2 linked regions of the Homo sapiens genome follow. The protein of the gene in region 2 interacts with the protein of the main gene of each other region in a pairwise test. Each region holds a gene or a part of one and is shown on either strand. Other genes may lie near its edges.

Evidence for each region. The genes of interacting proteins can lie anywhere in the genome.
Region 1: the proteins of PWP2 (region 2) and TOM1L1 interact in a two-hybrid assay, tested with the Homo sapiens proteins (one large-scale study listed by BioGRID and IntAct).

Annotation. Positions count from the first base shown.
Region 1 is NC_000017.11:54,949,270-54,952,955, reverse strand, and holds part of TOM1L1 (TOM1-like protein 1), read right to left. Parts: intron 3,439-3,686; coding exon 3,333-3,438; intron 2,912-3,332; coding exon 2,830-2,911; intron 1,055-2,829; exon of another isoform or gene 1-1,054. UniProt on the Homo sapiens protein: Probable adapter protein involved in signaling pathways. Interacts with the SH2 and SH3 domains of various signaling proteins when it is phosphorylated. May promote FYN activation, possibly by disrupting intramolecular SH3-dependent interactions.
Region 2 is NC_000021.9:44,105,848-44,110,239, reverse strand, and holds the start of PWP2 (periodic tryptophan protein 2 homolog), read right to left. Parts: upstream 2,842-4,392; 5' UTR 2,824-2,841; coding exon 2,806-2,823; intron 1,257-2,805; coding exon 1,144-1,256; intron 1-1,143. UniProt on the Homo sapiens protein: Part of the small subunit (SSU) processome, first precursor of the small eukaryotic ribosomal subunit.

The sequences.
Region 1 (3,686 bases), on a different chromosome or scaffold from region 2:
TAGTATCTAAAACTTTCACTCATTCTTTCTTCTGTTCCCCAAACATCCCATTCTCCTTTTGGGAAGGGACCTTCTGACTAAGTTTGGAGCCACAATTTCTCTAAATCAGGACAGAATAGAGGTGTTCTGAGCCCATGGCACTGCCATGCTGGCCCTAGTTCCTGGGGAAGTTCCAGACTTGGGGCCTCATATGACTCCTTGGCTAATGCGGTACTAGATAATTGTATAGCATTAGACTGCCTCTTAGCAGAACAGGGAGGAGGAGAGTGTGCAGTTATTAATTCCTCTTGCTGTACCTGAATAAATACCTCAGGGGAAATAGGAAGTTAACATTAGGAAGGTCCATGCCCAAGCCTCTTGGTTCCACACTTTTAATCAGCAGCCATATTTTTTTTTTTTTTTTTTTTTTGAGACAGTCTCGCTCTGTTGCCCAGGTTGGAATGCAGTGGGGCACGATCTGGGCTCACTGCAACCTCTACCTCCTGGGTTCTAGCGATTTTTCTGCCTCACCTTCCTGAGTAGCTGGGACTACAGGTGCGCACCACCACACCTGCCTAATTTTTGTATTTTTAGTAGAGACGGGGTTTCACCATGTTGCCCAGGCTGATCTTGAATTCAGGGTGATCTGCGCGCCTTGGCCTCGCAAAGTGCTGGGATTACAGGGGTGAGCCACCACATCAGGCCTAATAGCCATACTTCTAATTCTGTTTGAGAAGTTCTCAAATTAGCAATACCAAGTGTTACTTGGTTTCTTCCCCTAATGAGGCCACTAATTTTATTGCTCTTACTACTGTTGTTTGGTCCCTGCATCTTTAACCTCTTCGTAAAATTTGTATCTTCCAGATTAGAAAAATTTCAACTGTAGGTGCCTTTGCAACCTATCCTGGGAGACCCTAAAACATATTTAGTTTTAGTGCCTAGAGATTTTCACTCCTCTAACATCTCTGGATACAGTGTCCCTGGTCAACATGAAGAAGTTACAGAAGAACGCTTTCTGATCCTGGCCCCTAAAGAATTTACTTGTGCTAAGTAATAAAATTCCTATTGATCAAAACCTGTGTCCTTGTGGAGAGTCAGATATCTGTTACTATCCAGGTGAATGAACCCTGGGTTTTTTGGGTGGTAACAGGACCTGAGGGGCTGCAGAGCCTACCTGTGTAAAGGAGATAGCTACTACTCAACCCCAGCCCATAGCTAGCACGTAAAAATTCAGGCTTCGTGTTGACAGAGTATCTAAATGATCTAGAAGTCCAGAATTTTTATTTTCAAATATCCGAGTTTTCAGCTGTTGGCAACTGTGGTCTTATGATACATACTGGTTTTTGTCTAAGGTTCCTGGCTCACAACTCCCATAGCCCTTGTTACAGTCTTTTGTTATAATGTTGGGTGTGTCAGGCCTTAGGAGCCAGCCTCTGGAAGCAGAATCTCTCGACCTTCTCTAGTCCTCCTTTCACCTGCCCCAAGGCACCACTCTAATCGCCCACCTTTGTCACTGTGGGTCATAAGAGCCTCCCTAGAGAGGGTCCTGCCCTATACCCTGGGGGAAGGAATGCTGACATCAAGAAGCTTCCATTAAAAACCCTAGAGGACTGGGTTGGGGTTGGGTCAGGTCAGTTTCTGGATAGCTGAACACGTGGAGGTACCTGGAGGGTGGGACTCCAGGGAGGGCACGGAAACTCCATGGCCTTTTCCGCATGCCTCGCCCTGTGCATCTCTTCATCTGCATCCTTTGCAATGTCCTTTATAATAAACCAGTAAATATAAGTATTTCCCTGAGTTCTGTGAGCTGCTCCAGCAAACTAATCAAACCCAAAGAAGCAGTCATGGGAACCCCAACTTGAAGCCAGTCAGTCCTAAGTTTAGAGGCCCAGGCTTGTGACTGGTGTCTGGGAAGGTAGGTGTCGGGGTGGTGGGGACTGAGCTCTCAACCTGTGGGGTCTGACACTATCTCCAGGTAGATGGTGTTGGAATTGAATCAGAGGACACCCAGCTGGTGTCCATTGTAGAATTCATTGCTTGCCTGCTGATGGGGAGAAATCCTCACATATTTGGGGGCCACAGAAGTCTCTGCATTCATTGTTATATTAGAGTGAGAGCTGAGGAAAAACATGGTTGAGAGTTTCCCAAACCAGCAATTAATTTTTTAAATGCACATTTTAAATTCTGCACAGGTCAAAAACAAACAACTGCAAGCAAGATAGAGCCTGTAGGCTGTCAGTTTCTGAACAATGATTTCCAATAAACGTGCTTTAATAATTTTTAACAATTTGGGGGTAACCTTCAGTCACTCAAAGTATATTAAAGTTCTTATGACCTTACCATTCCATTAATATTTATATATCTTGACCAATATGAAATCATAAAAGAATGTTGCTTTAAGGATTTTAAGTAAAAAGTAATTGTACTAATGCTTTAGAAGACTAAAAACAAGTTCTAATATAAGATTTTTTTGGATCAGTTCATAAAGAGCAGCTAAAATATTCCATCAATGTGGCATAAACTTATGTCACCAATCAGTGACTAGTACCCTTCTCAAGCTAAAGAGAACATGACTTTCTGCCAAGGGATCTATGAGGAGTCCATTAAGCAGGTTAGTTCCAGTTATTTCTTAACATGCAACCCCAGCATTTTTATTTTTTAGTCACAAGGCCGGAACGATAAGACCATTAAGAGTAACAGCTGCCATAAAACCTCATAAGGCATTTTTAATAAGGCCATCAATTTCTGCCAAGACCTAAACAAAGTTAAATGTATAACCAAGCCCTGTTAGCTCTGCTATCAAAGGGAACCAAGACAAAAAATAAATTAATCATTTTGTAAATGACTTACTCTGTAGTGACAGCAGGAGCTAAGGGATCAAACTCCATTACCTCGTAGTAATTAGGTGGCTGGAGATCACTTTTTGTCATCGCTTTGGGCAAAAAAAGAGACCAGTAAACATATTGTGCTTTTTGAGGAGTACACGCAATTGATATTCTTTTTATAATTTAGACTTCAAATATTAGATCCTAATAAACACAACCAAAACAGACTGGTGTCCCAATGCTACTCCCAAGTTCAACAAATCTGTATGTATCAAAAAGGTTTCCAAACCTCAACTAAAGATTCATTTACCTTAGCATTCAAAACACAATACTCAGTTTAACACAAGCATTTTTACAGTCTCTTATAAGTCAGTCATAATGGTATCTGCCCTGAATTTGTTTCATTAGCTTAAAAATACAAAAGAGCATCTCTAATTTCTCCTATTTTCAGTTACCAATGAATCTCTGGCAGACTCATATATTCTCATAAGTTTCCTTATTTGATGCGAATAATAAGGTCCCATGTACCTGGATGATTGCTGGGCAAAGGTGGCAGACTCTGGTTTGATGGTGCTGCTGCAATGGTTTGTAGACTAACTGGCTGTAGAAACACTGAATTTGAATGTTCCAGAAACTGAAGAAAGCATAACACATGTTCATATAAACGTTCTACATTAAGCTTTTCTTTTATTACTGAGACTCCTACACTTGCAAGTACATTGTTCCAAGAACTTTGAACTGGACAAGAATAAGTTGTTTTTAATTATTACTTTAGTTTTTTTAGGTAATAATCACTTACGAGATTTACTACTTTTCTGCTGGGCATGGTGGCTCATGCCTGTTATCTCAGCAATTTGGGAGGATAGGTGGGAGGATTACTTG
Region 2 (4,392 bases):
TTTGTGTGTTCACTGGAGTAGCACTTTTAATTTCCTTCAAAAGCTTTTTCTTTGCATTCACAACTTGCCTGTTTGGTGGCAGAGACCTGGCTTTTGGCCTATTTCAGCTTTTGACATGCCTTCCTCACTAAGCTGAGTCCCTTCTAGCTTCTGATTTCAGGTGAGAGTTGTGTGACTCTTCCTTTCACATGAACACGTAGTGGCCACTGTAGGCCATTATTAACTGGCCTAATTTCAGCATTGTTTGTGTCAGGGAATAGGGAGACCCAAGTAGAGGAAGAGAGACGTGGGGGGGTGGGGAACAGCCGGTCGGTGGAGCAGGCACAGCACACACAGTGCTTACCGATTAAGCTCGCTGTCTTACATGGGCACGGATCACGGCACCCCAGAACAATCACGATAGCAACAGCAAAGATGATCACAAATCACCCTCACAGGTATAATAAACTTTGAAATATCACAAAATTACCAAAATGTGACACAGAGACATGAAGTGAGCCCCCACTGCTGGAAAAATGGCACCGACCAACTTTCTCCAAGCAGTGTTTCCACACACCTTCGCTTCGTGGTAAAACAGCATCCGCACAGAGCCAGAGTGCAACAAAGTGAAGCAAAGTGCAACAGCACACAGGAAGAAACCGCTAAACCCCAGCGAATAAAACTGACCTCCGGCTGCAGAGCTGGAAGCTTTGGGCCTGCCCGTCCGACTGGTGAGGCCCAGTGGCAGCAGGGCTCCCGAGCAGGGGTCCAAGGTACCTTCAACTCCCCCAGCAGCCCTGGCCTTTCAGCCCTTAGGGGCCTTCCCTGATGGGGGAAGGGCTAACCCTGAGCTACACCTTTTCCCCCACCCACCCTTCACAGCACAGGGACAGGGTCCCTTCCCACAGAACGGAGCCAAGTGACACACCACTTTATGGGGCCTGGCTAAGGCACTACAACGAAGAACTGGGTCTGGCTGCCAATTTCCACAACTGATCTGCTGACCCTAGTCTGTCCTGTAGTCCTGTCCTGGGCTCCCTTAATTAACGGGTGCACCATTAAAAGGAAGGCACAGAAGACACTATCAGTTTTCATATGTTACTTAAAAAATGGTGATAATAGTAATCAGTATCACTATTATGAATACCACTTTCACATACTTACTTTTTAAGGTCAAATACAGTGACTCTATTGCCCACGGGACTGATAACTGAATTTCCATCGCAGGTAAAATTTAGGTTCCCACGCCGGTACACCGTACCCAGCAAATTTGAAAACTGTGAAGAAAACAAAATTGTCTTAACACAAAGAAAACAGTCGACTCCCAGAAAAGCACTAAGTGAGGCATCTGGGCAGAGAGATGGCATAGAGAACCCCACCTTGGGGGCCCGTTCACCTTTCCTGGGTAAGAGAGGAAGAAGTGAGCCTGATCCTCAGGAGACCAGAGGAGCCCGGGCGGCCCCAAGCTCCCACAGAGATGGGTAAGATGCCCCTGTGAGCACTGAGGAAGCCTCCCAAGACAGGAGGCGTCTGCCAGGTGAAGAGGGGCATGGAGCCCACACTTCACCAAGAAAAAAGCTGCAACAATGGAACAGCACCCCAAAAGTGCTTAGAACTCAGGGCTTCCAGAAGTGTGGTAAGCCAGCATCCTATTTACTAACTCACGAGCACGAGCGTTCACTGGAGACTGCCATGCGCACAGACACGCACACCTTATATTCTCTCTCTAGCAGGAGGGGGATGAGAAGTGTGGGAGCAGGGGCTACTTTAGACGGTGGTCACGGAGAGGCACCTGGAAGGGTCACCTGAGCTGGAATCTAAATGGGAAGGCACCAGCCAGGCCCTGAAGCTGTGAGTGGGCAGCGCCCTCAGGACCTCAGGGAGGAGCTTGGTCAGCAGAAGGACTTTAAGCGGCCAGGCAGGCTCCAAGGCACATTTTTTGCCACCTTGCAGTAGGAATGTGGAGCGGATGAAGTCCTGGCCTGTGAGGACGTGGATATGGTTTCTGGTTTGGTGCTGGGCACACAGCGGTGGCTCCACCAGCACAGGGGACACAGGAGCAGCACTCTGAGGGGCCAGTACCATGCCCAGTTTCGGACAGGACAAGTGTAGTACACGGTGGGCTCAGCAGCAGGCGGCCCGTGCAACCCTGGAAGCGCAACGGTCAGGGCCACTGTGGGAAACACAGGCGTCCCCATAACCGGCCAGCTGTAGCAAACGCTTCAGAGACCCCCAGGCCGGCTCCACGGCCCCCTCTTATTACCTGTCTCACCCGCCTCCTGCACTTCACATCTGGGACAAGTCTTCCCTGGCTCTCAAAGCTGAGGGCGTCCGCCTCAGGAATTCCCTCCGGCCTCGGGAAACAGAGCTCACACCTGGGTTCCCCGCCCTTCCGCTCACCTGGACGCTCGCTCGTTAGGGACCAGTCCCGGGCCCCGGGTCCCTGCTGTTCTCACCCCGCCTGCGCGCGCCCGCGTCCCCGCCCCGTCCCACCTCCTCATCCCTCCCGAGGGTGCTGTGCCCTCCCCGACTGCACCAACTCCAGCCTTTAGGTTGGGCCATACTCAGGTTAAAAATATCCCGGGACCCCGACAAATGTCCCTGTTCCCTCCGAGAAGCCGTCGGCGCCTCCGTCCCAGCTCTCCCAGGAGCCCCACCACAGCCCCGCGTCCCCGAGGCCACGGGCGCGCAGACAGCCGGCGACCCCCACGCGGCCAGACGCCGCAAAAGCAGACCACGCGCCCCCAGCCCGCCCGGAGCCAGCTCAGGCGCCGTCCACCGGAAGAGCCGCGCCGATCCAACAGACCGCCCGCCGCCCGCGCTCACCCGGTAAGCGAACTTCATCACGGCCGTCGCACGTGTGCCGCAGCTCAACCCGGCGGCCGCCCACAGAGACACTTCCCGGGGGTCCGCGCGGCACCGCCCACAGCACGCACTTCCGGGAAGCGACGGCGTGCACCGCCCACAGCGCGCGCGCCCGGGACGGGGTCGCGCACCACCGTCCGCAGCGGCCCAGGAGGCAGGAGGAGCTGCGTCGCCCTCGCCCCGCCCCGAGGCGGAGTTTGAACGCGAGGCCCAACCCCTCCCAAGGCGGGGGCCTTCTCCGGGCCCCGCCCACACCCCGGAGCCACACTGCAGGGCGCCTCTTAGGCGCGCTCCAGCGCTGGGCGCGCTCCGCACGGACGCCCAGCCTGGCACAGCAGCGTCCACAACATGAGAGCGCTGCACACCCAAATGTCTTCGTTCTTGTGAACTGTTGGGTAAGGAATTATGAATAAAGTCCCGAATGCTGGCCGGTGCGGTGGCTCACGCCTGGGAGACTGAGGCGGGTGGATGACCTGAGGTCAGCAGTTCGAGACTAGCCTGGCCAACATGGTGAAACATCATCTCTACTAAAGTATAAAAATGAGGCGCATGCCTGTAGTCCCAGCTACTCGGGAGGCTGAGGCAGGAGAATGGCTTGAACCTGGGAGGCGGAGGCTGCAGTGAGCCCAGATCGCGCCATTGCACTCCAGCCTAGGCAACAGAGCATGACTGTCTCAGAGAAAAAAAAAAAAAAAAAAAAAAAAATAATCCGAATGTTTCCCAAAAGGCAAATAATCTATGCCCAAGAGTCAGGAACAAGGACTAGGGAGATAAAACAATAAAATCTTCACATTACATACTGTTGTCACACCATGTCGCAGCAAAAGATCCAGTGCAAAATAGTTTCTTCTTAAAATGTGTATTTTCAGAATTACAATGCTTACATTTTAAAGTCTTAATACAATGGTTTTAATCTAACAATATATTACATAATATGAAAAATGACTTTTCATAGTAAACCATGAAAATGGAATACCTGCAGTGTCAAAGTCACCAACTTGTCACCTTTTCCAGTCACAGAATCCCAACACATTGTATTAATGATGACTGGGGGGGGTCTTACAGCCTGATGTATATAGGATGAATAAATGTAGAGAAAGGAGCATTTTCATGAAAAATAAAATTTAAAAACCAGGTAGGATTTATTTTAAAGAACACAGTTGAAAGTAAAACATTTACATCAGCCCAGTTTGCCCTTTTGTAAAAAGTAGTATAGCTTTTCATTTTATATACAAACCTGCAGTGTCTGATTTCATTTTAAAACTTAATTTTAAGCACTAAAGAAAATTTGAATAGAAGCCTGTGTGTATTTTCTCTGCTAATTCTGTATGGGATATCTGGCATCTCCACTAAGAGTAATTAATACAGGATCTGACCTTCCTAGGCTGTGCTGACAATGGAACTGTTGTAGGTAAAGTCATTTTCAGATTAAATACAACAATTTCCACATTAGAATCAGAAGAGTTATAATTTTTCCAATCATAGGACATCCCATGAAATTCACAAAAATTATAACTTATTTTATTTTCCATTTGACAGTATTTACAT